2 separate regions of the Homo sapiens genome follow, and region 1 is linked to region 2. The links come from fine-mapping of genetic effects on gene expression. A gene starts in region 2. The other region holds a variant in brackets. All regions are shown on one strand. Distances are between the middles of the regions.

Evidence for each region. PIP is the estimated chance that this variant, and not a neighbour inherited with it, causes the effect.
Region 1: its variant is fine-mapped to the expression of PCK1 in tibial artery (GTEx, PIP above 0.99).

The regions. Positions count from the first base shown.
Region 1 is chr20:57,573,846-57,589,477 of GRCh38, forward strand. No RefSeq gene overlaps it. Among named protein-coding and RNA genes, the nearest start is that of PCK1, 21 kb to the left of the region's middle. RefSeq lists an enhancer at 12,488-12,782. The variant G/A (reference allele first, on the strand shown) is at 8,648.
Region 2 is chr20:57,554,746-57,570,377 of GRCh38, forward strand. It overlaps PCK1 (phosphoenolpyruvate carboxykinase 1), which reads left to right and starts at 6,365. Exons shown (of 10, transcript NM_002591.4): 1 at 6,365-6,458; 2 at 6,627-6,890; 3 at 7,326-7,507; 4 at 7,951-8,154; 5 at 8,283-8,470; 6 at 8,820-8,982; 7 at 9,424-9,648; 8 at 9,737-9,868; 9 at 10,295-10,390; 10 at 10,605-13,376. The coding sequence starts at 6,667. The coding sequence ends at 11,059. RefSeq lists an enhancer at 13,942-14,442.

The sequences.
Region 1 (15,632 bases), 19 kb after region 2:
CTTCTTTGTTTCCCCAACCCGCATTTCTAGTGGGGAGGGGGTCTGATGAGAGAAGTAGAGAGACCGAATTTTATGGACAACACAAAGTGCTGAGTTATGTTAGGAAGCCTTCTGGGTCTTTTAGAGGCAGCATTTGGGAATCTGAGTCCCTAAAGCCTCCTGTGACCACAATGCACAGTGAAACCTGCTGTTCTGTCCAAGGGGCCCTGTGGACAGCACCCCCTAGAGGTGTGCGTTGCACCTCTCCTCTCAGAGCCCAGATGAGAGCGCACAGCTGAGAGACACAGCTGTTCTGAGTCAAGCCTTGCAGGCTGGGATGGGGATTCAGGAGGAAAGGTGAAGGTGTTTCCACCTTCCTTTGGCCTCGGAGTTTGTCTGCGATCAGCTGCTAGTGAGAGTTTCCTTCCTGGAAAGGGACTGGGTCCAGATGTCCTTCTAACTTGGTTTAGAACAGACTTCCTGTGTCACTCAACTCCCCAACAACTCGGGCTGTGGGAACAGGGGTTCTCTTTCTACTGGGTCTTCCTGGCCTCATGGACAAACTGACTCCCAGGAACTGGGTTACATATAACTCAACTTTCGGTGGGTTCACCTGATGCAACCTCATGTCCTTCATGTCCTGCCCTGAGATGTGTCAGAAGAGGTCAGACCTCCTTGCACCATGGGTATGGGTTCTATCAGTGAAGTGATGGTCCCTGGGGCCCCTCTAACATGGGGGTTACAGTCACTGCATAAGTGTGGAGAACAACTACTGATTCAAGTCTGTGCTGGTAACAGCAGGGTCAACTTTTCGTGTTGCTGAGCATGAGAGAATGTGCTTTGAGGAGTGACATTTTTGTTCTGTTCCCAGCTGGCGGATGCCTCCCTAGAATGGCAATTCTCCAAGATCAATCTGTCACTTTCCAATGAATAGTTATCGAACAGCTTCTGACTGCCTGGCACTTAGAGTCAGCCCAAGTGCTTAGATGAGCTGATCAGGACTGTCTTTCCTAATGAATTGGTCCCACAGGGGGCCCTGTCCTTTTCCCAGGGTCACTGAAAAACTTCAAGCCTCAAGGTATAAGGAGTAATATTTTCTCTAAGGAGAATCTACGTTACTATTCTGCCCCATTCAGAACTGCCTGATGGTCAGTCTCCTGTTCCATCCCCTCACATTTTGGAATTCTGCCTGGGCAGTGAGGGAAGGTGCATTTGCATTCCACCTCCCCCCTTCCTTCCTTCCTTCCTTCCTTCCTTCCTTCCTTCCTTCCTTTCTTCCTTCCTTTCATCCATCCAGTCATCCATCCTTCTGTCCATCTATCCATCCATCCATCCTTCCTTCCTTCCATCCATTCATCCACCCTTGTATTCATTGTTCCAGCCTTTACTCTTCCATTTAATTATTCTTTCTCATATTCTCCAACTATCTATGCCTCTGGATGCTTGTCATCCATCTGTACATCCATCTAATGGTCCATCAACCTCCAATAAGTCACTCATCTGATCTCCATCCAGTCCATCAATGATCAACCCTGCATCCATCCTCAATCCATCCTTTCATCTTATCACTAAGGACACATAGCTCCCCATCTGTGAGAGCCGAGTTTGAATTAGCCCTGCCTGGTTTTTCCACATGCCCTCAGGATACAAATAACTGCACCCAGACATAGCAGACAAGCTAGGTGTCCTGAGAGGTGTAGACAGGTTGTTTCAAAGTTTCAGAGGAAGGAGAAGGAGCATCAGGGAAAGCTCCTCAGAGGAAGCAGTGTTTGAGTACTCTCATAAAATAACATCATATTTGGAAAGTCAAGATATAACTGGAAAACTGTAGGCATTCCAGCGGATTATGGGATCTGCGTGAGGATTGGGTGGATGGAGGTAGAGTGGTTGGAGAATCAACAGAGGGTGAGTAGAGAGGTAGATGCTGTGTAGACGGCTGGAGGTTGAAAGGATGGATGAGAGGTTTGGTCAGATTAAAGGGTGTGGAAGTGGGAACAGAAGAAAGGTAGTGTGGCCCCCTCCCATGCTAGGGCAGATTATGAAAAACCATGCCGTGTAACTGAGCAAGGGTTGATTTTGTTAGACAGGGAGGTAGAGAAGCTTGTGGATGATGAGCGAGCCCCCAGGGAGAGTGGCCTTTTCCAAAAGCTCCTCTGGTATTGTATGCCCTCTGCACTGGGGGTGGTTATCAGTGCTGTTCTTCTCAACTTGGGGATATGGGGGCCAGAGACGCCATGGAGTACAGGCCCTAACCCTCTAGCTATTCTGCAGTCTGCCATCAATCAAGTGCTCATGGCTAAAACTCCAGCCAACAAGGAACTTGAACAACACAAGTCTAGAAAACAGGCTGTTGTCAAGAGTTTGACTGATTGATGGTTTGGAGCTCAGAAAAAGTTTCCCCATGGTCATTTCTTAATGGCCATTTCAGAACAAAGGGGCAGAGGAAACCAAACACCTTCCCAGGGTCTTGCCTCTGGCAGGGGAGAAATTGAGGTCTTTGATGGTTTCAGATGTAAGTGCTACCCTGCCGTTAGGCTAAAATTTCCAGTATTTGAAAAGTCCCAAGCTAATTTTCAGGGAGGAAATTAGATGAGAAGTGGCTTTTAAAACATGGAGAATCTTATGTTTAAAAACTTGGGTTGCCAAGGAAACTCTCTCTTCAATACTTCCTTGCCACCATGTTGTAAATTAAGCCCCTAACTGAAAGGTAATTAAGGTAATTGGTGGCACTGCTGCAGAGAGAATGTGGCAAGGCAGCCGGAGGGAAGGAGCCCCCAACCTTTTAGGGCACACAACCCCCTTAGCTCTGGGGGAAGCTGCATCCATTACTGCATGTGAGGGCCTTGAAGGCACCTTTGGAGAAGGCAGACCAGCAAACAGCTGTGAGCCATGCTCAGTGAAAGGCCAAGGAAAGGAAATCTGAAATGTCACGCTGCTACCCTGTTGGTTTTGAATAGGTGAAAGCTCCATGAGTCAGTTAATGAGCAGATTGGGAAGGGCTGCAGTGTTCTGGCCCCCTGCAGCCAGGTTAATGTATGTGGTATCGGGAGAGAGCTTCAGCAATTGTTTTCTGTCACTTTCAGGAAGGAGGCAATTAGTTTGTGGTCCCAGCCATCCAGCAATCCATCTGTCCATTCATTCATCTCTCTATCTGTTCATTCATCTGTCCATCTGAACATCTATCCACCCACCGTCTATCCACCCACCAAGCCAGCCATCCACCTATGTATTTGTTTATCCACTCATCCATCTATCTGTTCACCTGTTCATCCATCTACCCACTCTCCCCACATACACAGCTGGATGGATGGGCATATCAATGAATGGAAGGATGGATGGATGGATGGGTGGATGGATGGATGAATAATGGGAGGGGTGAATGAGTGGGTGGAGAATAGACAGATGGATAGTGGATGAGTGCATAGCTACTATCCATCTGTCCACCTATCTCCATTTACTTATCTATGCAGCCACCCACCTACACGTCCATCCATCCATCATCTATTCATCATCCATCCTCCATCCGACCGTCTATCAGTTCATCTCCTGCCCATCCATCTAGTAAGTAAACATTTCCTAAGCATCCATAATTATAGTGACAACATCTCCCACTCACTGAGAGATAAGGTATGTCAAGGCCTTTCCAGGCACAATCTCTTTAGATCCTTCCCTCAACACTGTGACTTCTGGAATGTGCCCCATTCCAGAAATGAGGCAGTAGAGAGGTTCTCACAGCTAGCAAAGGTGAGAGCTTGGATTTTAACTCTTGTCTATACCCTGGGTGCAAATTCCTAGGAGAGGGGCAGTGGCTTTTATCATCATCTATCTCTGCATCTTTGAGCCTGGAGAACAAGATGTGAAGGAGGGTGGGGACAGAGAGCTTGGCTGAAGCACTGGGAAAGGGACCTGTGTCTCAGGCTCCAGGGGCCAGGGGCTGTCAGTGACCCAGGTCCAAATGCCCTGGCTCTGACCTGCCCTAGCACACCCTTCTGCACATACCTAGGCCTTTCCTCTTCCCACGGGGTAAACACTGCCAGCGTGGTCAGGTTGCTGGTGCCAAGGTGAAAAGTCCATGGATCAGAAACCGGGCCCCCCTGGGAAGTGCCGTTCCCAGAAGCTGAGGCCTTTCTTCCAGTAAACTTTGGCCTCCTTCTTTCTGGCCGTGACTCCCCATGCACAGGGAGTCCAGGTTCACATCAAAGGGGTGGGGAAGGGGAGAGAGGGGTGTGCAGCTGAGCACCCCATGGCCCAGCACTGCACTGCGCTGGGGCTTCAGGTGCTTCCTCATAGTCAATTCAGTCAACATCCCAACTGGGGGCGGGTCTCAGTCTTCTCACTTTGCAGAGAAGGAGACTGAGGTTCATAGTGGCAAAGTAACTCTCCCCAGGTCACATGGTTAGTTTCAGGGAGAGAAGTCTCATCTCGAACCCTGATATCAGCAGGCAGCAGCTGGAGCCAGACTGCAGTGGGCCTAGGGGTGATAAGTGGGCTCCGCTGTCAGCCAGGCACTTCTGAGCTGTGTGACCCTGAGTGAGTCCCTTAACCTCTCTGTGTCTCAACTCCCTCTTCCTACTTACAGGGTTGAGAAGACTCACAGAAGGGGTGTACACCAAGTGCTTTGGATACTCTCGGCACTCAATAAATGTGGGCTCCGTGCAGTACTTGTCTCCTGTGTGTAGTGGAATTCTGCAGGGAAAAGTTTGTTGGGCAGAGGAGTCCCACTGCTGCATGCTGGCTGAAGGGCTGCGGCTGCACTTTGCGGGAGGCTGAAGAGCCAGGAGAAGCGAGGATCGATCTGCTGTCATTCAGCCCCAGGAAGGGCACCCTGAGGCCTGACAGCTCCTCCACCACTGTGGCAAACTGCAATCCCGGGAGAGGCTGCCACCTTGCTGAGGGATGGGTGGGAGCTAGTCCCTGGGAGGGGGTTCCCCTGCATGTGTCCTTCACAACTCTCTTCACAGGCAAAACCCGGGGACAAGTGTTAAGAGCTCTTTGTCATCCATCTAATGAACATTTGTTGAGTGAACCCCCGAGGAGCAGGAGCTGTCTTGTCCTTACCTCCTCTGACTCTGGTGCCCAGAACACTGCCTGGTGACACCCACTGGAGCTGACCCTCCCAAGGGCTCCTGTGTACCAGCAGAGAAGGCATTTCCAACAGGCTGCCTCTCCGAGCCCAGTCTACCCTCTAAGGCAGCCATCACCTGTGTCCTGCTCACCGGGCTTAGGGGGCCAAGATAGCCAAGGTCACTGGGATCCTAAGGAACAGAGTGGGATTTGAACCCCAATGTGTCTGAGCCCAGAGGCACTGCCTCCACCACTCTCTCCATCTGCTGGCCCCAACTGCTTTGCAGATGTTACCAGTGTCTACCGGTTGGTAAAGGCTGGCTCAACCCTGGAGCATCTACTGAGTGCCGTCTCCACCGCAGGGGCTGGGGGACTCACGGGAAAGCCAGACACAGTCCAACTGGGACCAATCCTGGAGCATCTACTGAGTGCCGTCTCCACCGCAGGGGCTGGGGGACTCACGGGAAAGCCAGACACAGTCCAACTGGGACCAACCCTGGAGCATCTACTGAGTGCCGTCTCCACAGCAGGGGCTGGGGGACTCACGGGAAAGCCAGACACAGTCCAACTGGGACCAAGGGCTTCTGAGGCCACCGCACATGCTATGGTTTTCTGCCAGGGGTACTTGCCCAGGAGTCAGCTCTGGAAACACTTTGGAGCTGCTTCCCAAGGCCAGAGCGAAAGCCTGCCCCACTTCTCCTTCCTGGAGCAAAATCTGAATATGTACTCCCTATGGAGTTTGCCCCAGGTGCCAGGGGCTGTGCTGAGCCCCCTCCCATGGTCTCCCCTGAAAGCCCGAGGGAAATGCTGTCTTCATTCCCATGCTGTCAATGAGACAACCATGGGGAATGAGCCGTGAGCACCACCATCTTTCTTGTCCCTTCGAACATCTCCAAGTCAGATAATCATAACAATAGTGGCAGGCATCCCACATTCGTATAAGCTGGCAGTCCGTCCTGCCTTGGCCCCCGGCCCAGTTAAGCAGAGGGAGGTGGTGCTGTGCCCTGCATCTCTATGGATGGGGAAACTGAGGCTCGGGGCTGGGAGGAGGCAGATCTGAGGGCTTCTGAGTTTCTCCTCCTCCTGCAGACAAAGAGAGTCACCCAAGGTCATCAGAGCTGCCGCGGCGGCAAAACAACAATGTTCTGACTTCTGGTCAGGTCCTCCTTCCATCACGACGCTCCAGCATGGGAGGGGAGGCAGGCGTGGGGGCCGTCAGGGGCCTCTTTAATTCATGAGTTACTGGCAGAAGCACAATCTCCAGGGAAGATTGATGACCGGCTGCAGGTATTGGTGGGCGGATTCATAAAGCTGTCGGCAGCAGGCCGTAAATCAAATGAATATTCAAGATTCCGCCTCAGGAGCAATTCCCCGGCTCCGACAATAACAAGATGGATGTGGGCAGGAAGGCAGGCGTGGTGGCCTCAGAAGCCCTCGGCCCTGGAATGAGGCACCGCACTTGCTCATAACTTCAGCATCTGCCTGGGAAATCTGGGCAGCTCAGAAGAGGGAGGAGAGCAGATCGTGGACCCCAGACCCAAACGCGGACCCCATGTTGAGGATTATGTTTTATTGAGGCATCATTTACTTGCAGTAAAATGCACAGGTCTTAAGTGGAACATGGGAGGAGTTTGGACAACTGTGTATAATCACCACCCAGATCAAGGTCTAGAACGCCCCATCATCACCCCAGAAAGTTCCCTTGTACTCTTCCCTGCTCACCCCCCATCCTGAGCCCTACGCAGCCACTGCTCTTCTTCCTCTCACTGGAGCATGTGGACTTCTGTGGAGGGCGTGGACTTGTCTGCCTGTTTTGCTCAGCTTTCTCTGCGTGGCTGAGCTGGGAGCAGCTCCCTGTCCTGCTCTGCTGCGCCGTCCCCCATGGCAAGGGTCTGCCGCCATGGTATGGGCCATTCCACCCTTCATGGCCACCTGGGCTATTTCCACTTTTGCCTATTCTGAGAGGCTGCTGTGAATTCCTGCAAGGGTTTTTCTGGGTGCTTTTGTTTCAGGTAAACACCTGTGAGTGCAAGGGCTGGGTCCCAAGGCAGACATAGGCTTTACCGTTTTAAGGAACTGCCAGACAGATTTCCAAGTGACTGTGCCTCTGCATTCCTGCCAGCAGCGGATGAGAGTTCTGGCGCTCTGTCCTCATCCTTGCCAGCGGTGTTTATGACACCTGTTCAGGTGAGTGCAGTGGCATCTCACCAGGAGACCGCCCCCCCCCACCTTTTCTCAATTCACCAAGTCTCCACTGGTCCTGGGACACAGCCTTTGCTGTCCTCTCACGAGCCCTTGGGGAAGGCAGCTCATCTTTGTGGCTGAGTTCAGGAGCCGAGTCCCCACGATCTGCCCTCCCCACCGGGCTGCCGCGTGTTCCTGGGGCTGCCGAGGCTGGGACCCAGAGCTGCCTTTTTAAGAACCTTCCCATGGCTGCCCACTGCTCTCAGGATGCAATGCACTCTCCTTCCGGTGGTCACGAGGCCCAGTGTCATCTGACCCTGGCCACCTCTCTGCTGCCACCCCAGGCCACCATCCTACCTGCTAACCATGCTCTGATCTACTGCCTGGGATCAGGTCCCACCCAGGACCTTTGTCCTGGCTGTTCCTTCTGCCTGGATTCCATTCTCCAGCCCCTTCTGTTGGCAGCTGTGTCCAGGTAGAAGGAATGGCTGCTGCCTCTGAGAGTGATGAGCTTGCTGTGGGCTAGGTGCTGGGCACGGTCACCAGGGGGGTCCCATCACGAACCTCATCCTTCAGACCAGGAAACTGAGGCCCAGCAAGGTCACTGGAACTGCCCAAGGTCATGCCACAGGTCGGGGGCAGAGAGGAGACCAGCCTTCATCTCAAGCCTGTGGAATCATCCTCTCTTCCGGAGTGGCCTGGCATCTTGTCTGGGAAGGAAGCTCTGGGCTGGCCTTGGGCAGAGGCTAGATGATGTGAAATGCCAGCTCCTCTTGGGATTCACACTCCCCCAGTAGGGCAAAAAGCACACTCGTGCCTCTTCCTCTTTTGGAGAACATTTCCCCATTTCCCAACTCAGCATGAACTTCTTTCCTAATTCTGGGCCATATTGCTTCACTGCCATTAGCCCCCACCACAGACAAGTGTTCCGTGGGATCAGGAGGCTTTAGAAGTTAACACAGGACAGAGGTGGCCAGCACCACTAGGGTTCCCCTGGTATCTGGAGCCCCTGTCCATCCTGGTACAAGACCAGCCCCCAGGACTCATCAACATCCCAGAGGTCAAAGTCTCCGCAGGTGGGACAAGCTAGAGCAAATCTTGTCCCATGTACTCTAGTCCCTTCGTATGCTGTTCCATCCGGGGCAGGCTGGTGACAGAAGACACAGTGCCCCCCACCCAGTCCAGGTAGCCCTGCCTTCTCTCCCCAGAGCCGAGAGCACTAATAGCCCCAGTTGTTGAAGAAAGGGACCTGTCCCAGGGTCTTCACTTTGTAGGTCCTGCCAGCAGCCCTGATTTCTATGTACGAATATTGCTGTCATCCATCAACTCCCCTCAAAACAACTCCCCAAAAAACAGTCACCTCAGATTCCCCCCGTTGAAGTAAAAGTTTCTTTTCCTAGACTTCTAAAGTCCAAGAAGG[G/A]ACCTCAGCAACACAGGCACGTCTCCTGGGCAGAGGCGTGCGTCATGGAAAACTTGGAGGCTGGTGATTGGGCCGTCTCTGCTGCAAAGTCAAGTCCCCGAACGCTTGAAAAACAACATAATGTATTCCTGTCTGCAGCTCTGAGCGAAAGCTCATTTTGTGTCCTGTGTTTCCATTTCCTGAGGATTAATAAGTGTGGAGGGGAACTCGGGCTTCGTGCCGAATATTTATTTAGTCAATATACGCATCAATTTAGCAAATTAGAGATCGCAAGCCATTTCTAAGCAATGCTGTAAAAATAATAGCTGTACTTTAAACTTGTAATGGATTTTGGTTTGGTGGGAGGTGGTGGCTACTACGTGCCTGGTACTTGATAAACAAAGAAGTTTAGTTCTCCTTAAACTTCAGTGGATGTCTGAGTCATTGGAGATGTTTGTTTAAAAAGCAGACAGATCCTATTGCCAAGGGCACAGGCTGAGGGGTCTGGGGTGGGGGCTCTGGAACACAGTGAAGAGTGGGCTTCCGGTGAATGGCCCTGTGTCTACCTCCTGGCTGTGGAGGGCAGGGTTCCTCCGCCTCGGCACTGCTGTCATGAGGGGCTGTGTGCTTCTCCAGTGTGGGGGCTGCTCTGTGCACTAGAGAATGTTCAGTCTCACCGCCATCTCTGTCCACTAGATGTCAGCAGCAGCAGCCCCCTCCCCAGTTGCGACGATCAGAAATGTCTCCAGACATTGGCACGTGACCCCTGGCAGGCAAAATCTACCCCAGCTGAGATCTACTGATGTAGTGCAGGGTTCTCAGGCTCTCTGAGCCTCATTTCTTCATGGAGACACACATTCTCACAAAAAAGCCTTCTACCCCACAACCCGGTGAGAGCACGGCTGCTGCTCACATTGCATAGCTGAGAAAACTGTGGCTCAGAGAGGCCCAGTGACTTGCCCAGGGGTACACAGCCCACCCGCAGCTGACCTGGGGTACGCAAGGCACTTCCTAGTCCTTGAAATGCTCAGTGGCCCCTTCTCATCCCTCGAGCCTCTGTCCCAATGTCACCTCTTCAGAAGGGCCCTCGCTGTCTCCCTGCGCTAGGGTAGGCTCTCACCCCTGCTCTTCCGATGCTCTTTCTTACCCCTCTGCCGTGTTCCCCACAGGACTTGGCCTAGCAAGCATCGTGACTGCGTGCGTATTGACTTGTCCTCTTCACTGTCCCCCACTGGCATGTGGGCCCCTCAAGGTGGGGGGTTCCTGAACTTGCTCCCTGCTGTGGCTCCAGGCCCTGGCGCAGAGCAGACGAATCATAGAGCAATCAAATGGCTCATTGGAAAGGTTCCCAAGGCAAGGCTGCCGGCTGCACCACACCATTCATTCTCCCCATATTCTTTGCTAACAAGGCCCCTGACTTTTAGCTCCTGGTCATATGGGAGTGTGACCAAGTGCTGGCCAGTAAGATGTAAGTAGAAGTCTTGTGTGAAGTCTTTCAGGAAGTGTCCTTACAGGAAGAAGCAAAACCCTGCTTATCCCTTCCTTTTTCCTGATGACTGAAGGTGGGACATGATGGCTGGAGCACAAGCAGCTGCCTTGGACAATGAGGCAGAAGCTCTGTGTTGAGGATGGAGGGTCAACACGGTAGAAGGGGTCTGGTCTTTGGTGACTTCTAGAAGTTGCCTGACCACGCTGAGCTGGGCTTCTGTTACATGAAGGTGAAGTCATCTTCTGTTTCATTTAAGCCATGCTGCCCCTGAGTCTCTGCTCCACGCACCACACTGAACCCTAACCAGTCCTCTAGGCTCTGAGACTGCCCAGGATGGAAAAGGGAACAGATGTTGGTTCTGCCCAGGCTGTTCTCAAATAAGTGGGTTCCATGAGTTTCTTCAATTATTATAGAAGGAGCTCCCACTTGCACTGTTGAGGCTAATCTGCCCAACTCCCAAGGTCAGGGGATCACTCATGCCCCTGGAGTGACAGGTGTGGGTCTGAGGGTCAGAGGGATGTGAGGGGAAGGAATGAGCTAGGATTCAAGTCTTGAGGTACCAGATCCTGGACCTGTGCTCCTTAGATGACACTGCTGCCTCTGACTGTCAGTCATGCCCATCCATCCATCCATCCATCCATCCATCCATCCATCCATCCATTTCTTCATTCACTCAATGAGTGTTCACAATATGCTTGCTAAATGCTGGGGACAGGGTAGTAAACACTACAGCTTGTGGAATCCTGGAGTGAAACAGACTAGTAGGTGGAGATAGACCATGAGCCACCAGACAGAGAAACAGACATGGAGATTACAAAGTGCTAGGCAGGGAGTCAAAGGGGAGATGGAATTGAAAGTGACTGGTAGGGTGGCTTCAGAGAGAAGAGATGGGAAAGTACGCTCTGATCAGGGGAGGTGAGGTTGAGAAGTGAGGAAGGGGGTACTGAGGGCTATGAGAGCTGGGAACGGTGCCCCAGGCAGAGGGAAGAGCCGGTGCAAAAGCTCTAGGCTGGGGGTGGCCCAGGCAGGTCAGGGGATGGGGAGGCTGGAATGGGAGGGGCCGCTCTTGAAGGATTTTTGGTGAGGGGATCAGACCATGGGGACCCTGGTCAGGGAATTGTAAGAAGAGCGGGTACTACACAGGCTCTTACCCAGTGCTTTGCATGTTGTAACTGATATTTTTGGTACCAACTTGTGTGCCCTCACCATTCACCCAGTGGTGACCAGCAGCAAACACCTGTCACTTCCTGGGCTTGGAGACTTTCTCAGACCACTGTAGCTGCTCTTCCCATGCACCGGCAGGCTGTTCACACAGTCCCTGGCTAGAAGCATCCTGCAATCAATCTCTGCCAAGATGGGTGGATAAATACTTTGGCTCCCTCACCTCCCGGCTGGAATAAACTTGATCTCAGGGTTATTAATTGTGCACTCTTCACTGGCTCCCAAAGTTCCCAAGAAAAGTTGAGCCCACAGGGATAACTTACCGGCTAAGGTGCCCTGTGTTGCTGTCTGCCTTCCCCTTCCCTGGCTCACTTTCCCTCCTCCTCTGCTAGGGCTTCCTGGGATCGCTCATGTTCTTGTCTCCTGGTCTGCTCCTGGGACAACCCAGTCTGAGACACAGAATTAGCTCATTTAGTCCTCACAGTGATCCCAGAGAGGAGGCACTATCATTGCTCCCATTGCAGAGAAGAAAATCAAACCGAGGTACAGAGACGTTAAGTCATTTGCTCCAGGACACACAGGAAATGACAGAGCTGGGACTTGAGCTCCATGGTGGCTCCGAGTCTGTGTGTTGACCCCCCTGCCTGCAGCACCGTTTATATTTGGTCCTGACTATGATTTGAAGTAGGCAGGGGTTTCATGCAGACCAGCGGTTCTTCAGCTGTGGTTCTTCCCCAGCGACAGCAGCAGCACCTGGGAATTTGTCTGAAAGAGTGATTTGGGTGGCCCACCCCCAGAGCTCGATTCTGTGGGTCTTGAGGTGGGCCCGGGAGGTTCTAGTGCATGCTCCAGTTCGAGAACCACTGGCATAGGCGAGTGGTGTAGACACGACGTGCGGGAGAGGAATGGGAGGCAGCAGAGGGGTCTCCATCCCAGGGAAGAGAGGCTTCAGGGGAGAGAAGGGGGCGCGGGGGGTGGAAAGGGGTCAGATTCAGGCCACATTTGGGGTTGAGCCGACAGACTTGGAGATGGATGGGGTGTTGGGGGTGAGGGGAAGAAAAACCAAAGATGACCCCTAGATGTTTGGCTTCTGCCAGCAAGTGGATCTCAGCACCATCCTGAGTGGGGAACACCAGGGAAGCTGGCTGGGCAGGGCCGAGGGGTCCATGTGAAAATGAGGGGGTGGCATGCATTCAAGGGGGGCTGCCCCCTTGACAATTCTGCTTTGCCCCCCTCCCCAACCCTGCATTTTCCCGAGGCAAGTCTCTTTCTGGGAACCTGACTCCCTCTGAGAACAGGCCTGGCTGAGCAGCCTGGGGAGGAGTGGTTGGGGCAGTAGCCAGGGCCACTGGGTGGTGTGGGGGAGGGGTGGTGCACACGCTGCAAAGTCCAGTCCTGTGGCCTGTGAAGCGAGCAACAACTGTGGTACTCGGGGAACCTCTGTTCCTGGAAGGAATGATCAGGCAGAGGCTAGCTCACCCCACACCCTGGCTGTGATGTCCTGACTCCGAAACATCTAAAGCTCAGCGGGGCAAAAAAAGATAGCTGCATTTCACCGTTGCATTTCAAAGCTTTCAGACAATGGTTGCCACCCAAAGATGGAAGCCCCCAAGGCAGGCCACCCTGCTGCGCAAAAAGGGCTTTGGCTGGGACACCAGTGGGCTCCCTGTGAATGTTCACAATGGAGAACAGAGTTATGCTAACACCAGCAACTGATTTAAAAAGTAGGTGATTATTTTAAAATAGCATTTTAAAATATTTTCATCATTTGATTGTGTGCAGTGTTCACATGTCTAGGAAAGCAATCTCCATTACAACACAAGGACACACGGGCAAGGATTGGGTGGTGGGGAAAGGGGAATGCTTAGGACTTGCAGAAATATGGAGTTCAGTGGAGAGCTGTAGAATGGAAAGGATCTGAAGAGACGCCATACCAGGCAGGAGGACTGCCGCGGAGAAAGGGATGGCGGTGGGAATGACCGTGTCTGGCCATCAGCTGGCAAGGTGGCCCTCCGAGCTCAGTAGGAGATACCTGCGATGGGCCAGGTAAAGAAGCAGGTCTGACTGGAAAGGTAGGTGCGGATTCACTGAGCACAGGAGTGCGATTTCTCAGGGCTGGCAGGTAGAGAAGGAAAACAGACACTTGTCTCTGGAAGGGGATAAAATCTTTGATTTTACTCAATCTGATCCAACATATATTAATTGTGCACCTACCACATATAGGCACAGTTGTACACATGAAGATACAATGGTGAACTGGACAGACATGGCCCTGTCCACAGAGCATACACTCTGAGGGTGACAGCTTAGAGAGCATCACGTGATGTTATTGTGGTGCGGCCTGACGGGGTGAGGGACCTACCAAGGTCACACAGGGCTGGATCAGAGTCCCAGGCCCTGACCGCCAGCTCAGTGCCTTTCAGCCTGTCCTTGAGCAGGGACTCCTGGGAACACACTGTGGATGCACCAGGTGGCCCCAGTGCCCTCCTTGGCAACTTCAGGAGAGGGTAGTGAACTCTCTACCCTGTGGATTCTTCTGGAAAGAAAAGAGATGTTTCCTTGCTGCTGGTGGAACTTTAACCATAAGGAACCTACTTTTCTCCCATCTTTCTCCATACAGAAAGGGGTCTCTTAATTTGGGGCTGAATCTCAGACAGACTGAGGGGAGGGTGCCCCCCAGGCAGATTGCCCCTTGGGCATCCTAAGTATGTATCCTGAATTCACAGGAGGCATGGGATGAATTTAGACTAAGGGTGGAGAAGGCAGCTGTCAGAATTTTCAGCCTCCTTCCTTGGCCTGGGCAATTCTGCTCAGCCCAAACTTGCTCAGCCAAACCAAAGCCCTTTGGGGCATGGCTGTACCTCCTTAGAAGACGTCTGAGGTGGTATGTGCTGTTGTCTTGGCACATCTTCAGGAAAGAGGCCTCATCTCCAGCTCAAGTAATTTATCCTGGAATTCCTTACAACCACAAACAATTGACCCTGAGAGGGGCTCGAATAAATGTGAATTTCTCCATCTTATCACACTCCCACAGATGTCTTAGCAACGAAGCAGCTGGGGCCAGGGAGCATCTAGACTCACTTCTTAATTGGTCTCTCACTTAATCCTAAGCCTTCAGCACTTTCTCGCCTGGGTGTCCCTTCTTCATGCTATGCACATATACAAAGCCACAGAGTCATACGATTTAGGACCGGAAGGGATCTTTAAAAAATAACCAATGTGTTTTGGGTGCTACGAGCCAGGGACTGTGTTAAATGCTCAACCAGGATGAGCTCATTTGGCTTCCACTGTGAAACTGCTGCATTAGGGAGCTGCCCAGTCCAGCCTCTCAGAACACGCCACCTCAGGGCCACAGACACGGAAGGAGCCCCCACCACCCTGCAGGCCCCCCCCCCGCCCACCGATTTGTCCTAAACAGCCCTGGTCTTTTAACGAGGCTTTTGAGGTTGATGTTGCCCAACATTAAGCAGGAGTGAAGAGGAAGCAAGATGGAAAAGGGGCACCCACTCAAGTGAGCTTGGACCCTCAAGCTGGCCCTGCAGACCCCACTATGTCCTGGGGAGGCCTGGCAGGGGGTTCAGCCTCGCTGTCTTCGGGATGGTGATAGAGCCACCTATACTGCATCTCCAGCCCTTGTAAGCTCTGCCCGTGCTCTTTTCCCTACAGCCATGGGAGGTGGGGGCCACCTCTCATGCCCATAGCTGGCTCGTGGGGTCATGGTGAGAATTAAATGAGAAAACACATGTGGAGGGCTTAGCGTGGAGCCCTGTGCCTGGTGAGCTGTGACAGGTGCAAGCCTCTCCTGAGTCCCACTTTACAGATGGGGAAACTGAAGCCAGAGAGGATAAGTGACCAAGCTGGGTTTATGATTGGTCCTCCTTACCCCTGATCCCATGCTCCTTGTGGACTCGAACGCTGGATGCAGCCCAGACCCTGAACATGTGTCCAGGGAATCAGGGCACCAGTAAGGAGGATGAAAATGAGGCTGTGCACGCCGAGACAGTGGTGTTTTCCCAGCATGCCCCATTAAGGAGGGGCTATCAGTGCTTTCCCTGTATAAATGGGGAGACCAGACCTTTGCCTGAGGCCACACAGGGAGGCAGGATTTGAATTCAGGTCTCTCAAACAGCAGAGCATGAGTGCTTAACAACCACACACTACCGCCCCTACTGCTTCCTTCTCACAGGCAGAAAGCCAAGATCCCCCTGAAGCAGGCGCCCAAAGGCTGCACCGTTTCTGCTGACACCCCCATGACACACCTGGAGGTGGCCACGGTTGAGGCTGTTGGTGGCCGGGGTGTGTCATGGGGAGCATAAGGACCCCACAGTTGCACTGCCCAGGCTGGCATCCTGCACA
Region 2 (15,632 bases):
TCACAGGGGGGTGACATCGCTCTCTGAAGGGCGAGATCCTTCCTGGGATGGAGGTGGCGTGCAATGTTGGGCTGTGGCACGTGCATGGTTTCTCATGGCTGGGGCGCCATTAGGCCTCCCCATAAACCTGACAGAGAAAGCTCCAAAGAAAATACGCCAGCTTTTACAGTCACTTTGCTGTGGGTCAGTGGTGATTGAAACAGGAGACACCCAGCCCTCCCAAAGGTTCTAACACCTGGATATTTAACATGTCTTCTGGGCACATGTTTGCAGCAAGAATCATGCTTTAATAACAGGCACCAAGCAAAGTGGTGTAAGTCTAGATACATTTTTATTTCCTTATTGTGGGAAAAAATACATGAACAAACAAAATCACAAAACTTCTGGGGAGAGAGTTTTTGAGGATATGAATTTTCTCTGCTGGGTACATTCAGCCCTGAGCTCACTGCCTTACGACAGCACAGGCCATGTAGCGAAGCGGGAATGATTAGGTTGAAGTCTGGGCAGGGTGATCGGTGTGTTAGGGACCTGCCTGCACCCTGAGTGGGCTTTGGATACCATCCTCCCACTACTTGTTCCCACATCTTCAAAATAAAAGACTGAACGATATAATCTTTTTTAAAAATTGAGATGAAATTCACACAACAAAAAATTAACCATTTTCAGGTGCAAATTTAGTGGCATTTACTACATTGACAATGTTGTGTAATGCCCCTCTGTCTAGATCCAAAACATTTCTCCCAGAGGAGATCCCCCAACCCATTGAGCTGGAGTGACGTCATCTTTTAAGGACCTTTTTAATTATATGATTCTATGGCATCAGAATAGGCACTTGACTCATTCAGCTCTGTAAAGACACCCTCCAGACTGCAAAGACATTGAGATAATCCCACAAACATGAAACTTCTAAATATTTGTCCCTAACAAACACAATTGAGGTGGGGTGGATGACCTGAATCGCCCTGGTGGATGACTTTGTGGCTGATCGTTACAGGGCTGACTGGTGTTTTCCTGCTGTCAGAAGCTTCATGATGGGGCCAGTCGGGTGCCCAGTGAGTAGTATCCCTGGCAACAGAGACCCAGGCAGATTTGCGTAAATACCTTTCGTCCCAGGACATGGGATTTACACTGTGTGTTTCTCGTCACCTTCAGGAAAACCACTGTCCCTTTTTTTCTTTGCCAGATAAGAGTCAGGCTTTCCTACAAATTCAGATTCCTGAACCAAGGGGCATTTTTGTGGTCATCCCTTCGGTGTTCCCGTCACTGCCGTTGGTGGCTGGGGTGAAGTGAGGAGGTTGTGGCTGTGTGTGTGAGAGCCTTAGCTTGGGAAAATGGTGTCTTTGCCGTCTCTGGTTCTCAACTCTTCAGCACAACTTGGTTGTGCTGTGTGGATTTTCAACATGTTCCAGCTGTGAAATTCCTTATACCACAAACATCCAATATGGAAGCCGGAAATGTACAACAGGTCAAATCAGAGATGCCATGGGTGAGGAGGGCTTAGAGCCCGTCTCCTACAGCCTTTCTCTCTCCTCTGTGAGGGGTGAGTGGAATCCCCCTAAATCCCTTAGAGCCCAGTTGGGAAAACACGGACCTTGACTTTACATGACCTCCAAGCACTGCTGTTGAGAGTGTGTGTTTGTTTTTTTTTTTTGAGATGGAGTCTCACTCTGTCACCCAGGCTGGAATGCAGTGGTGAGATCTCGGCTCACCACAACCTCTGCCTCCCGGGTTCCAGTGATTCTCCTGCCTCAGCCTCCTGAATAGCTGGGATTACAGGCATGCGCCACCATGCCAGGCTAATTGTTTGTATTTTTAGTAGAGATGGGGTTTCTCCGTGTTGGTCAGGCTGGTCTCAAATTCCTGACCTCAGGTGATCCGCCTGCCTCAGCCTCCCATAGTCCTGGGATTACAGACGTGAGCCTCCGCACCCGGCCCAGAATTTCTGTTCTTTTATTGGCCTCCAGGTAACCAAGAAACACCAACATGTGTTGCAATCAGACTGTCCTCTGAATCCTCCACTGTGAGACCCCGCCAAAGTCATGGCTTTGTTTTCTGTTGTTCATCTGGAATGCAGCCATTCCCCACACCCACCTCCCCGGTCACACCTGCTGCATCTTGGCTGTCCCTGCGCGTGTTTTCTGCTGTCTTTGTCACTGCTCCATCCTGCATGGCATTCTACAGGCTCGTCAAAGTCCAGTTCACCCACTCTTCCAGAACCCTTCATGGTAGGCTGCTGGGAGAAATTGGGCTACAGTCCATCACAGGTGCAAAATGACACCTGAGAGGTGGCCCTGTCACTGACCACTTCTTCCCCAACACATGCTCAGTAGACTAAGTGTGGTGGACAGGCGCACCCTGGCCTGGGGGACCCAGAGGACTTGTGTTTGGAACTCCCCTTGCTTCCTTGGGTCTGCCATGACTGTCTGGCCCCCTCCTGCAGGGGCCTTGTATGAGCAGTTCGAGGAACGTTCTCACTAACTGCAAAGCACTGTACCAATGTCTTGATTACATTTTAGATAGCAGACAGTGGCCCTGGCTCTCCCACTGGAACTGTCTATGTGGCACTTGGCCATGTACAACTTCTTTAATTGGACCATCATGTAGGTCTGATGATAAACCAAATACTCTAACATCAGGGTGGGGGTCTCCCCAACTCCATCTTAAGTCTTTGAGGAAATTGTTTCTTAGGCAAGATAGCTCCATAACTTGTGGGACCACGTGCAAAATACACAGGGCCCCTTGTTCAAAAAGGACAAAAAAAAAAAAAACCTGTGTTCCTTTCTCCCATGGTCTCTCTATCTGTTGTGGCATGTTTTGCATTTGCTGTTTGATGTTGCGCTCCCTTGGGCAGGGGATGCTCATGGGAATGAGTGCAGACCCTCATGGGCGCACAACTCTGACCTGACTTCCCTGCCCTTGTGCTCAGACCCTAGTCGGGGTGGAGGGCAGCAGTGGTCACCTAGCAGGAAGAGACAGGGGAGCGGGCAGCTGAGGCTCCATCCTTAGAAGCAGAAAGGCTGAGGGAGGCAGAACTGTACAAGAGCCACGCCGCGTGCCCCATCATCCCTTCAAATGTAGAAGTGACACAAACTTAGAAGATCACTATGAATTTCAAGACAGTGACCCCAGAGCATGAAACTCCAAGAGAAGAGCCCCCTTCCAAGAGTGAGGCATGCTCTTGAGACTATGAAGTGGACCCTAGGATCAGTATGAAGTAGGTGCTCAGCAAGTGCTTGATGACTATGTGCTGGGAGTATAGACAGGAAAAGGACTCTCAGTTTGAGGACACATCTAGAGAACTGGCAATAGTAGCTGCTCATTCACTGTTGAAGGAATGAATATGATTCCTTTCTCGACCCTCGTCTATACCCAGCTGGGTTGAGACCCTCAGTTTCCTCATCTATAAAATGGGAAAGATAACAAAGGTACCTACATCGGAGAAAATCATGGAATGCATCCCATTTCTGGCATGCAGAGAAAGCCCAGTATTATGAAGATTATTATGCCCGGTGCTAGAGACATAGCAAGCATTTAATAAACGTTTGAGCTGAGGCTTCCTAGAGAATATGAGATTGCAGCAAATTGGATGCAAAACTTCTCTTTACCTTTTTAAATCCGTCTAATTATCTCGTATCAGGATATAGCTGGTGTGGTCACAAAGCAGGGAAAAAGCAATCGATATCCCTGAGTAACTGCAAAACATGGAGTGGCCCCAGGAAGGTGCAGGGAGGAAGTCCCTTTTAGTTTGAAACTATTTTAGTGTCCGATCTTTCTTTCTCCTTCTTTCCCCAATTTTGTATCTGGGCTCAACTTTTTATACATTTTTCAAAAGAAGAGCAGCCTTGGACCTAAGAAAATCTGAGCCTAAGGAGCTCCCCAAAAGCTAGGAGGTCTCTATGGCATCCGTCCCAGAAACAACTAACGCAACTCACAGGCAGCGTGAGCCACCTCCATGCCCCACCCACTGAGCACACACTGCAAAGTCCACTCGGCGGGTTAACTGGGGGTCCTCAGGGATCCCACCAGCAGGGTGGCTGTTTGGCTGCTTCTTCGGGTCCCTGTTGAAACCAACAGACAGTAGTTAGTTTTGAGGCTTACTTACAAATAAGCTGACAGTCAGATGAGGAAGACCCATGCTTCCGGCCAGCCCCTTGAAATTGTTGTCAATGAGTCCCCACTGGGGCAGGGAGTCTCTAAGGACAGGAAAAATGGGGGCCCGAGGGCATCATCTGCCAAGACCTAAGGCAACTGTACCCATACTTTTGCCTGTGTGTCCTCAAAACCCCTCTACTTTATCATGATTCTTCTTCCAGAGAACTCTGTCCTTTGAGGCAAGTCTGTAAACCAATGTTTGCTTTTTAACATTTTGACAAGGGACAGTTGCGGGGGAATCATTACCGTCCTTCCACGCTGTAAATGCAGGTAATGAAAGGATCGGATGAAGGTCGTTGGTGACTCACTGCTCTGACGTTTTACTTGAACTAGCTGTTTCTCTCCCAGAAGACTCAGAACATAAGCACCTGGAATGGATGGGTCGCATTTAGGACTCCAAATGAGTTCTGCTTTCCCTTTTTGTTTTCAATCTATGTGCTCTTTCAGGTACTCAAACCTGTTACCGTTTTATCAGCAAAATGGGACTTTCTACCAATTTGGTGGGATGAGTCTCGCCGGGAGTGATGTGTGTGTCACGGAATTGTGGTCATGCATCGGGATGGCTAATTCACTGATGTCAGATGCTAACGAAGTGGCCTCGGCTACTGAGCATCACGTCACTGTTGGGTTTAGACACAACACGATCTTATGTATGGATGACAGCACCACTAATAACAAATGCCAGTGACCTAAACGGGGAATAACTTCAAATGAAACAAAAAGCACCTCATATCATATTTATCCTGAAAGACACAACTGGCTGAATAAAATCTGAATACAGGAAACATAGCAATGGGTTGATAATTTTGGTGGAACTTGATGATGTGTGACCCACGCCCAACACAGTGTGACCCAAGCCCCCAGGAGGGTTCTCTAAGTGAGTTTGGTCGGAGGCTGCCATTCACAGTGACTTGTATTTGCCACAGCAGCTCTTTCTAAGCCCAGTCCTGGGATTATCTCAGGGATCATCCCACACCCCAGCGGGGAGATGGGCCAAGTCCCCACCTGACCTCATCTTAGGTAGAGAGGCTTCCATGGAAGTGTGGGCTGGCTGTGGGGGGTTGAGACCTAGCCCCGTTCTTTTGACATTTCACCCTGTGTTCTCCAAACTCCAGCAAGCAGCTTCCATAGCTCATTAAATTTGACTGAAGGTCTGATGGCTTGCAAAGCAAATTCTTTACAACTGTTATAAAGGTTTCATTGCTTAAGCATATAATCTAGCAAAACTGCCAAGCCCCCTCCACTCCCTAAACTCTAAGACTTGCCAGGGAAGAGAACAGTGGCCAGTGGACTGCAGGAGTAACTGCACTCAGCCCAGAACTCCCTGGAGGACACAGGGAAGGTTCTGGAAAGGTGGCGGTACCTCACAGGGAGAGACGTGGTGCTCCAGGGCCCAACTTGCTCATGTTCAGATCCTCACTCTGCAACCCACCAGCCGGCTGTGAGTGGCTACACAATCTCTGCCTCAGTTTCCCTATCTGTACATGGGTTGTTCATAGCCTCCACCTCAGAGGGTAGTAATGATGCCAAGCTCTTAGAACAGTGCTCAGCATGTGTGCATCCTGTGCCTACTCTATGCCAAGCACTACAGAGAGAAAAATGAACAAAATAGGGAGAAATCCCTGCCCTCATGGAGTTTACATCGGGGCAGGGGGCGGGGGCGGCACAGAGCAGACAATCAATACAGTGATTAGCCCCCAGTTAGGTTAGGCATTTCCAATCTTTGCCAATAAGCCACATATTTGCCCAAGTTAGGGTGCATCCTTCCCATGAACTTTGACTGTGACCTTTGACTATGGGGTGACATCTTATAGCTGTGGTGTTTTGCCAACCAGCAGCTCTTGGTACACAAAATGTGCTGCTAGCAGGTGCCCCGGCCAACCTTGTCCTTGACCCACCTGCCTGTTAAGAAAAGGGTGTTGTGTTTTGCAACAGCAGTAAAATGGGTCAAGGTTTAGTCAGTTGGAAGTTGTGTCAAAACTCACTATGGTTGGTTGAGGGCTCGAAGTCTCCCAGCATTCATTAACAACTATCTGTTCAATGATTATCTCCCTGGGGCGTGTTGCAGTGAGTTGGCCCAAAGCATAACTGACCCTGGCCGTGATCCAGAGACCTGCCCCCTGACGTCAGTGGCGAGCCTCCCTGGGTGCAGCTGAGGGGCAGGGCTATTCTTTTCCACAGTATTTAAAGCTGGGAGGTTCTGCCACCAAGCACGGCCTTCCCACTGGGAACACAAACTTGCTGGCGGGAAGAGCCCGGAAAGAAACCTGTGGATCTCCCTTCGAGATCATCCAAAGAGAAGAAAGGTAAGTAGAGCTTTGCATTTACATTTTGAAAAATTACAAAGATGAACTCATTTTTTTCCTGAGAGCAATAACTATTTGGCAATGCACAGCCCTGGCAAAAGGCCGTCGAATGTGTTTGAAGGTGTCTGTTGTTGTTTTTGTTCAGGACGCTTGCGTTTTCTATTTCAGGTGACCTCACATTCGTGCCCCTTAGCAGCACTCTGCAGAAATGCCTCCTCAGCTGCAAAACGGCCTGAACCTCTCGGCCAAAGTTGTCCAGGGAAGCCTGGACAGCCTACCCCAGGCAGTGAGGGAGTTTCTCGAGAATAACGCTGAGCTGTGTCAGCCTGATCACATCCACATCTGTGACGGCTCTGAGGAGGAGAATGGGCGGCTTCTGGGCCAGATGGAGGAAGAGGGCATCCTCAGGCGGCTGAAGAAGTATGACAACTGGTAAGCTCGGCCCCCGCTGCCTGTCCCAGCACCCTGCAGGCAGGGCTCCCCTGCGTCTCCTGGGAGTTGGTGGAGAAAGGTGAATGAAGGCCTTCGGGTAGTTTCAGACTCTTGAGAAGATGAATGCAATGGTCAGAACCATACAGACTTGAATTTTGTGACATTAGTGGGCCAGCCCAAGCTTTAAATGAGGTGTGTGCACAAAAGCTCTGCCAACTAGATTCCTGATTAAAAAAAAGGCAGCCCCTCTCCTACAGACCAGGTCCTAGTGGAGTAAATGTCCACCTGGCCATGTCTTAGATGGTCTGTGTGTTCACACTGATGGACTGTTGTTAGCGTGCTCAGCACTCTGCTAGGCATGGAAAGCCACGGTACTGAAGGAGATGGTTCGCTGCCCGTGGTGCTTGGCTGAAAGGAAGCCTGTGATTTTTGCAGCTGGTTGGCTCTCACTGACCCCAGGGATGTGGCCAGGATCGAAAGCAAGACGGTTATCGTCACCCAAGAGCAAAGAGACACAGTGCCCATCCCCAAAACAGGCCTCAGCCAGCTCGGTCGCTGGATGTCAGAGGAGGATTTTGAGAAAGCGTTCAATGCCAGGTTCCCAGGGTGCATGAAAGGTGAGCGGAACATTGATTTGATTGGGTAAAACAGCAGAGAGCCTTTTCTTATTTACATCTATCCTAATGGTAATTCAAACAATAATGGAAGCTCCCACCACCTCAGATGTCTTTCAGTTCCATACATGAAGTTGGCAATGTATTGAAAATGCACATCCCTCTTCTGCTTTTACAGACTGTCTTATACAAACGTGAAAACTAGTTCCATGCATATGGGTTTTAAATAGCTTGGTGGGACCCAATTGCACATTTATGAAAACTCTTTAATTTCAGCAGGCTGTTCACTTTCCAGTGGCCTCTTCTAACCCAGGGGGCTGGTGACCAGCAGGGTGTGGTGGTGTTAGTGGAACACCGTGAAAATGGGTCTACCTGGGAAAAAAATGCTGGTCGTGTTCGAAGTCCAAGGTCATTTCTCACCAGTGCCCACCCATCGCACCCTGTAGGTCGCACCATGTACGTCATCCCATTCAGCATGGGGCCGCTGGGCTCGCCTCTGTCAAAGATCGGCATCGAGCTGACGGATTCACCCTACGTGGTGGCCAGCATGCGGATCATGACGCGGATGGGCACGCCCGTCCTGGAAGCAGTGGGCGATGGGGAGTTTGTCAAATGCCTCCATTCTGTGGGGTGCCCTCTGCCTTTACAAAGTAAGTGTATTATTTCAGAATCAAAAGTCAAAATAAAAAAGAAAGCTGAACGCAAACCCCAGTGAGTGCCTCGGGGACCCCCAAGCAGGGCCCTGGCGCACTGACTTGGGAGGGGTCCTTGTTCACAGAGCCTTTGGTCAACAACTGGCCCTGCAACCCGGAGCTGACGCTCATCGCCCACCTGCCTGACCGCAGAGAGATCATCTCCTTTGGCAGTGGGTACGGCGGGAACTCGCTGCTCGGGAAGAAGTGCTTTGCTCTCAGGATGGCCAGCCGGCTGGCCAAGGAGGAAGGGTGGCTGGCAGAGCACATGCTGGTGAGCCTGCAGGAAGCCCTGATGTGCAGATGAGAGGCCTGGGGGGTGGCAGAAACAAACAGCATTACAGTTCCCACCCGTCAGCACACCTCTCTGAGCGTGCAGGTTCCCGGACAGATCGGGAAACCCCACCAGTAATGATTAGTTTACACATATACATCGCTTTTGAAGGCCCCCAAACACCAGGGGACCATAGAGATCCTTTGGACTTCATGATTCTGGGAGTGTTTGTTTGCACTGATACCTGAAGAAATAGATCTTGAGGGCCTACATTCCAACCTCTGGGCTGAAGTACCAACCTCGGGGAGAAGGAAACAAAGATCACAATAAAGAATCTTGTCCCCAACAGATTCTGGGTATAACCAACCCTGAGGGTGAGAAGAAGTACCTGGCGGCCGCATTTCCCAGCGCCTGCGGGAAGACCAACCTGGCCATGATGAACCCCAGCCTCCCCGGGTGGAAGGTTGAGTGCGTCGGGGATGACATTGCCTGGATGAAGTTTGACGCACAAGGTGACTCTTTTAGACCCAACTCTTGGTAACGATTGGACTCAAGCGAATCGTTGGCCTTCGAAACATGTCACATTCTCCTCAGTCCAGTGTTTGGATTTTTAAACTCTGTTAGTCCAGAGTTGGCCAAGCCTTAGAAATATGGATCCTGTAAGAATTCTTCAACTTAATATTCAATCTGGATTGAAACTGGGCCATATGTTGCTGTTTGTTTACATACATACATTTGTTTAAATGGTATTGGTGGAAAATTGTGGAGGAAGCAAGAGTCGTAAACGTATCAAAGTTGCATATGATGCTTGGATGAAAAGAGATAAATGCATATTCTAGGGAGGGAAAAAAGATTTGAGAAGTTGGCATAGAAATTAGTCCGGCAATATATAAGAGTATATGTTCTGCTTTGCCTGGCACTCACTACTGCTTCTCTGGTTTAAAACTCTCCAGGTCATTTAAGGGCCATCAACCCAGAAAATGGCTTTTTCGGTGTCGCTCCTGGGACTTCAGTGAAGACCAACCCCAATGCCATCAAGACCATCCAGAAGAACACAATCTTTACCAATGTGGCCGAGACCAGCGACGGGGGCGTTTACTGGGAAGGCATTGATGAGCCGCTAGCTTCAGGTGTCACCATCACGTCCTGGAAGAATAAGGAGTGGAGCTCAGAGGATGGTGTGTCCCTGCCAGAGGCCTTGGTGTGCCGGGCTGCAGGGACTGCCTGTTTGAGCCAGGCACTCACGAGCCTTTCTCTGTCTTATAGGGGAACCTTGTGCCCACCCCAACTCGAGGTTCTGCACCCCTGCCAGCCAGTGCCCCATCATTGATGCTGCCTGGGAGTCTCCGGAAGGTGTTCCCATTGAAGGCATTATCTTTGGAGGCCGTAGACCTGCTGGTGAGGCTCTCCTTCATTTAGGCTGGGAACATGGGTGTGCTGGGTACCGAAGGGCATCTGTGAAATCTCTCCTTTTCCATGACCTTGTCAGAGGGTGCCCAGGGGCTTCCTTTCTTGAGCTTCCTTCCCAAAGATCCAGAATAATTGGCAAGTTCAAATGTAGAACCAACCCTTCTGGTCACCTGGAACCTTTCTGAATCCCTGATCTATTGTAGCTTGATCAAATTTTACTTTTTACTTTGTGGCCTCAGTCATGTAACTTTGAGTTAGCAGTTTTCTGCAATTTAGCTTGGTGAACGCAAAACTAGCTCGATTACAAAGTTATTGTCTTGCCGTGTCTTTCCGTGTTGTGAATAACACCACTGGTTGTGGAGTCTGAATTTCAAAGCCTCTGATGAACATTTCTCTTTTTTTTTCCTGCTAAAGGTGTCCCTCTAGTCTATGAAGCTCTCAGCTGGCAACATGGAGTCTTTGTGGGGGCGGCCATGAGATCAGAGGCCACAGCGGCTGCAGAACATAAAGGTAAATCAAAGTCCTGATCTGAAACCACAGAGAAGTGGGATTAGAGCACTCTTCGTCACTCTTATGTCTCTCTCCTTTTCTGTGTCTGTGTGTGGGGAGAGAGAGAGAGAGAAAGAGAGAGAGGAGAACAAAGCATGCTAATGTCAACAATCAATGGCGTCAGTCTTGCCTAGGAGAGCCTCATTTACTAATGAACTCCCTCTCTGTTTAACAGGCAAAATCATCATGCATGACCCCTTTGCCATGCGGCCCTTCTTTGGCTACAACTTCGGCAAATACCTGGCCCACTGGCTTAGCATGGCCCAGCACCCAGCAGCCAAACTGCCCAAGATCTTCCATGTCAACTGGTTCCGGAAGGACAAGGAAGGCAAATTCCTCTGGCCAGGCTTTGGAGAGAACTCCAGGGTGCTGGAGTGGATGTTCAACCGGATCGATGGAAAAGCCAGCACCAAGCTCACGCCCATAGGCTACATCCCCAAGGAGGATGCCCTGAACCTGAAAGGCCTGGGGCACATCAACATGATGGAGCTTTTCAGCATCTCCAAGGAATTCTGGGAGAAGGAGGTGGAAGACATCGAGAAGTATCTGGAGGATCAAGTCAATGCCGACCTCCCCTGTGAAATCGAGAGAGAGATCCTTGCCTTGAAGCAAAGAATAAGCCAGATGTAATCAGGGCCTGAGTGCTTTACCTTTAAAATCATTCCCTTTCCCATCCATAAGGTGCAGTAGGAGCAAGAGAGGGCAAGTGTTCCCAAATTGACGCCACCATAATAATCATCACCACACCGTGAGCAGATCTGAAAGGCACACTTTGATTTTTTTAAGGATAAGAACCACAGAACACTGGGTAGTAGCTAATGAAATTGAGAAGGGAAATCTTAGCATGCCTCCAAAAATTCACATCCAATGCATAGTTTGTTCAAATTTAAGGTTACTCAGGCATTGATCTTTTCAGTGTTTTTTCACTTTAGCTATGTGGATTAGCTAGAATGCACACCAAAAAAATACTTGAGCTGTATATATATATGTGTGTGTGTGTGTGTGTGTGTGTGTGTGTGTGTGCATGTATGTGCACATGTGTCTGTGTGGTATATTTGTGTATGTGTATTTGTATGTACTGTTATTGAAAATATATTTAATACCTTTGGAAAAATCTTGGGCAAGATGACCTACTAGTTTTCCTTGAAAAAAAGTTGCTTTGTTATTAATATTGTGCTTAAATTATTTTTATACACCATTGTTCCTTACCTTTACATAATTGCAATATTTCCCCCTTACTACTTCTTGGAAAAAAATTACAAAATGAAGTTTTATAGAAAAGATGGATTTGCTTTGCTTGGTTTTTCTTATTTGAGCTACCAAGAGGAGAGAACTCTGATTAAATATCTTGTGATTTAAATCCTGCCCCCTCCCCAAGAAGGTGGGGACGTTCAGAATCACACTTGAAGAGGGGGTGCATTGCCTGGTCCCAGGGAGAAGGAGGGAGCAGATGGGGAGGAATGAGGCAGGGAACCATGGTTGGGGTTTTCTGAATTTGCTGAAGCCACTAGTTGGCATCCTTTAACAATTCTACAAACCTTTAGATGGTGAGGCTTATGTGGCAGGACTGGGAGGGTTTAATGCATGCTTTTTGACAGTTTGGATCTGGAGGGGTCTCAGGCTTCCACAAAAATTACATTGTGGACAGTTTCATAGGATTTTGCCTTTTAACTCTTCAAAGCAACAGTTTTCTCAACTGTCATCCCCGCGGGGGAGCAGAGGAAGACAAGTGAGAAGGAAAAGGGGACAGGATCTGGGTTGAGCAAGCATTAATTGAGCGCCTTCTGTATCCCGGACATCATGCCAACACCATGGGCTGCCCGAGAAGAGAGGTGGGTGGTTTGGTCCCCAGCTCTGCCTTGAACCCTCACCTGCTCTCCTCTACTCCCAGTGTTTATTGGATATTCCAGAACAGTCCAAACGAACCATAAACTTTATATCACAGATTCAATCTGTGTAAATACTATTATCTTCAAGTTGTAGTTTCTTTCTTGGGCCCAGGCTGTGAAATTGGCTTCACCCCTACCACACCCCAGCGGGCAGGCTTGTTCTTATGTCACACTCCACCCCTCCAGTCTCCTCAACTGGAAAACTTGCCTCTTTTCCTCACTTCCTCTGCTCCTTACAATGGCTTCATATGGAAGGTGAAGCTGAGATCACCCCAATTTTACAGGTGAGGAAACTGAGGTCAAGCTAGGAGCGTCCAGCGGGGCTGAGAAATTGCCAGGATTTCCTTCCCCATTAAGGAGCTGAGAGTCTTAGCTCCAGACACGTTGGCTTGTTAGAATATCAAAACCACCGAAGGGGAAAAACCACTTACTGGAATTAAATGCTATCTGCTGTATTAGTTTAAATCAGTGGCGTTCAAACTTGTTTCTCCTTTTCACTGCGGAACACGTTCTTGACATGTACTTGACTCAGAGTCCCATGTCTAAAGGAGACAGAGCCCAAGGCAGCCCACCTGAAGCTGGGGAGGGAGTCCAAAGTGCAAGCCACCTGGTCTCCATTTCCCCGCCCCTTGGGGGCCTTTGGGCAGCTCCTTGGACCCCTGAAAGAGGCCACCAGGATAAACTTTGTTAAAATGCATGCCTTGTGCCCCACTGTCCTATTACGGGCTTTCAGTAGTCTCCACTCCCTCGGCAGGCAAAGACACTGGCCATCTCCAAATTCCCTCCCCTCCTGCACAGCATCAGCCACCTGGCAAGCAGTCTCACATAGGACCATTTGCCAGCAGGCCCTGCAAGCCTGGGGGACAGCCTAGAGGAGGTGACTTACATACACAGCATAAGAGTTTTCAGGAGACCAAAAAGATTCAATATATGTCATTAACTCCTGACTCAGTTTCCCCAAACCATGCCTCCTGAGTGCTCCCTCTGTCTCCAAATCCTGATTTTTGTGCGCGGACCCCTGTCTACAATAAACAGGATCCTATGACTTCTTTCTTCAATGTTCTCTTGTCGTGCCTTCAGATGATGCAAAGTATGTAAGCTAAGCCCACTTGCAGGAAGCTCACAGAAGGCAAGAGGCTCATCACTTGAAAATACGGTTGGAGTGAGATGGAAAGCCCAGAGTCTCCTGATTCCTGGTCTACCACTGGACCACATGACTCCAAAACCAACACTGTGACTGACGTCCTCTACTGGAGTCCAGTGTAAGAGCTGTCCCCTGACCTCCAGGAAGCTGTGTTGCAGTCTGGGTTAAAGACCAGAAAACAATAGTTACACAGCAAATGTTGAACCAGGACAACAAACCTGCCCTTATTCCCAGTCGAGTCACTTAGGGGGCACTGACAGGTAGGCAGGCGGGGTGGCTAGGTGGGGCCGGGGCACACTTGGGAGTCAGGAGTTACAGGGCTCTTTCTCTTCTCTCCCTCTCCCTGGGGACCCACCCTAACCTGGACACCCCCGGGCTGCTCACTCGGCCCTCTGGATGCCAACAGCATGCACCTTCCAGAGTGCACGGTTTTGGCTGTAAGACCGCAGGTCATGGGCCCTGTTGAGCTCCCTTGACCTGCAGCCCTGCCAGAGGGCACCGAGCCAGGGGAGCAGCTTTTGCTTTGTCCTCACCTTTAGCAATTGCAGCGATGAATTCATCTATGGGAAAGAGCTGGCCACCTGCTTCCTCCCTCCTGCCCTTTTTCCTTCCCTGGGGGCAGTAAACACTGACAACCTTGAACACAGCAGAGCTCTGCCGCTGGCCAGTGGGGTCTTCTTCTGTCTCCTCTGTGCCACTGGGGTCATATTACCTCTGGTGGAGTTCGATAAGGATGAAATAAACTAGCCCAGCGCAGTGCCGAATCTGCAGTCAGGAGGGTCTGCGTGTGAGCCGAGGCCCTACATCTCCCTGGAAGTATGCCCTTAGGTGATTGCACGAAATGCTGAGCCTCAGGTTCCTCAACTGTAAAATGGGAGTGATGATTACTTTCTTCAGGGGGTTGTTGAAAAGCTCCAATGAGATGATGCCAGCCAGGGACTTGGCACACAGCTGGGCCTGGTGGGGGCGGTTGTTCTCATTTTTATTTCACTCCACCTCTCCGGGGTATGGGAGGTCGCTCCCCACCAAGCCGGCTGTCCCACTGATGACCGGCTGTGGCTCTGGAGTCGAAATCTGTCCTCTGTGCAGCCTCCACAACTCCTACTTTCACTGTGCATTTCAGGAAAAGGAGCTGAAGAGCGAAGTCAATCAGGAATATCAGAAGCATTTTTTTCTCTTCGTATGGCGAGCCCATCCCTGTAGGGAGCCACCTTCACCCTTCTCAAACATTTTAGCAGAAGACTCAGAGTTTGGGTCCAGGAATTCTATATTTAAGAAATGTGTCCTAAGGGAAAAATCATGAAAGTCTGCACAGATTTAGTTGCAAGGATGCTCATTATGGAGTTGTTTATCATGGCCAAAAATTAGGAACCAACCTAAATGCCCAACAATAGGAGATTACTTAAAAGAAATTGTAGTCCTTTTGAGAACAGACAACTAGGCAGCCATTTAAAATGACTCTGCAAAAGATAAGTTATTGACATGCAATATTTGCCACCGGCTTCACCTGTGAAGGTAGATAATGAAAGGGTATCGAGTATTTGTACATTTATGCTTAGAAAAAAAAACTTTAAAAATACCATACAATGGTAACAGTAGCAGCTGGGTCCTGGGTTGTTTGATTGGGAGAACTGAGTTGCCTCATTCATATTTTCACCACATCATTCAGGCTACAGAACTTTGCTGCAAAAAGGGGAGCTTGGCAGAGGCAGGGGGTGCCCCCAAATTGAGAAAACCCTGAATGAACTGACTTTACCCCAGTGATCTAAGGTAAAGTTTCTTCCACGGGATGAAATGGGGGCTTGAGACAGAGATGAATTTCAGATGGGTTCTCAAGCAGATAAACTTGTTTCTGCTTTCCTGAAGTTTTGTCTGGAGATTTTCTGCTCCTCCTCACACAGGAAGCTCAGCATAGCGTGGACCTTTGAGAGGGGTTCAAAACACAGGCACTTGTGAAGGCCCCGCTCCCGGGACCACTGGGCAGATTCCAGGAAGAGTGGCCGGCACCGGATCGATGCGGGACTGATTGTTACAGAACTGTTTCCACGCACCATATTCTCTCTACAATCTGGGCCCTCTCTTAGCTCCACGATAGAGCTCAGAGGTTTCTCTGATGCTGCAGAGCCGGGATTTAGGGATGCCACAGAGGAGCGGCGGACGTCATTTGGTC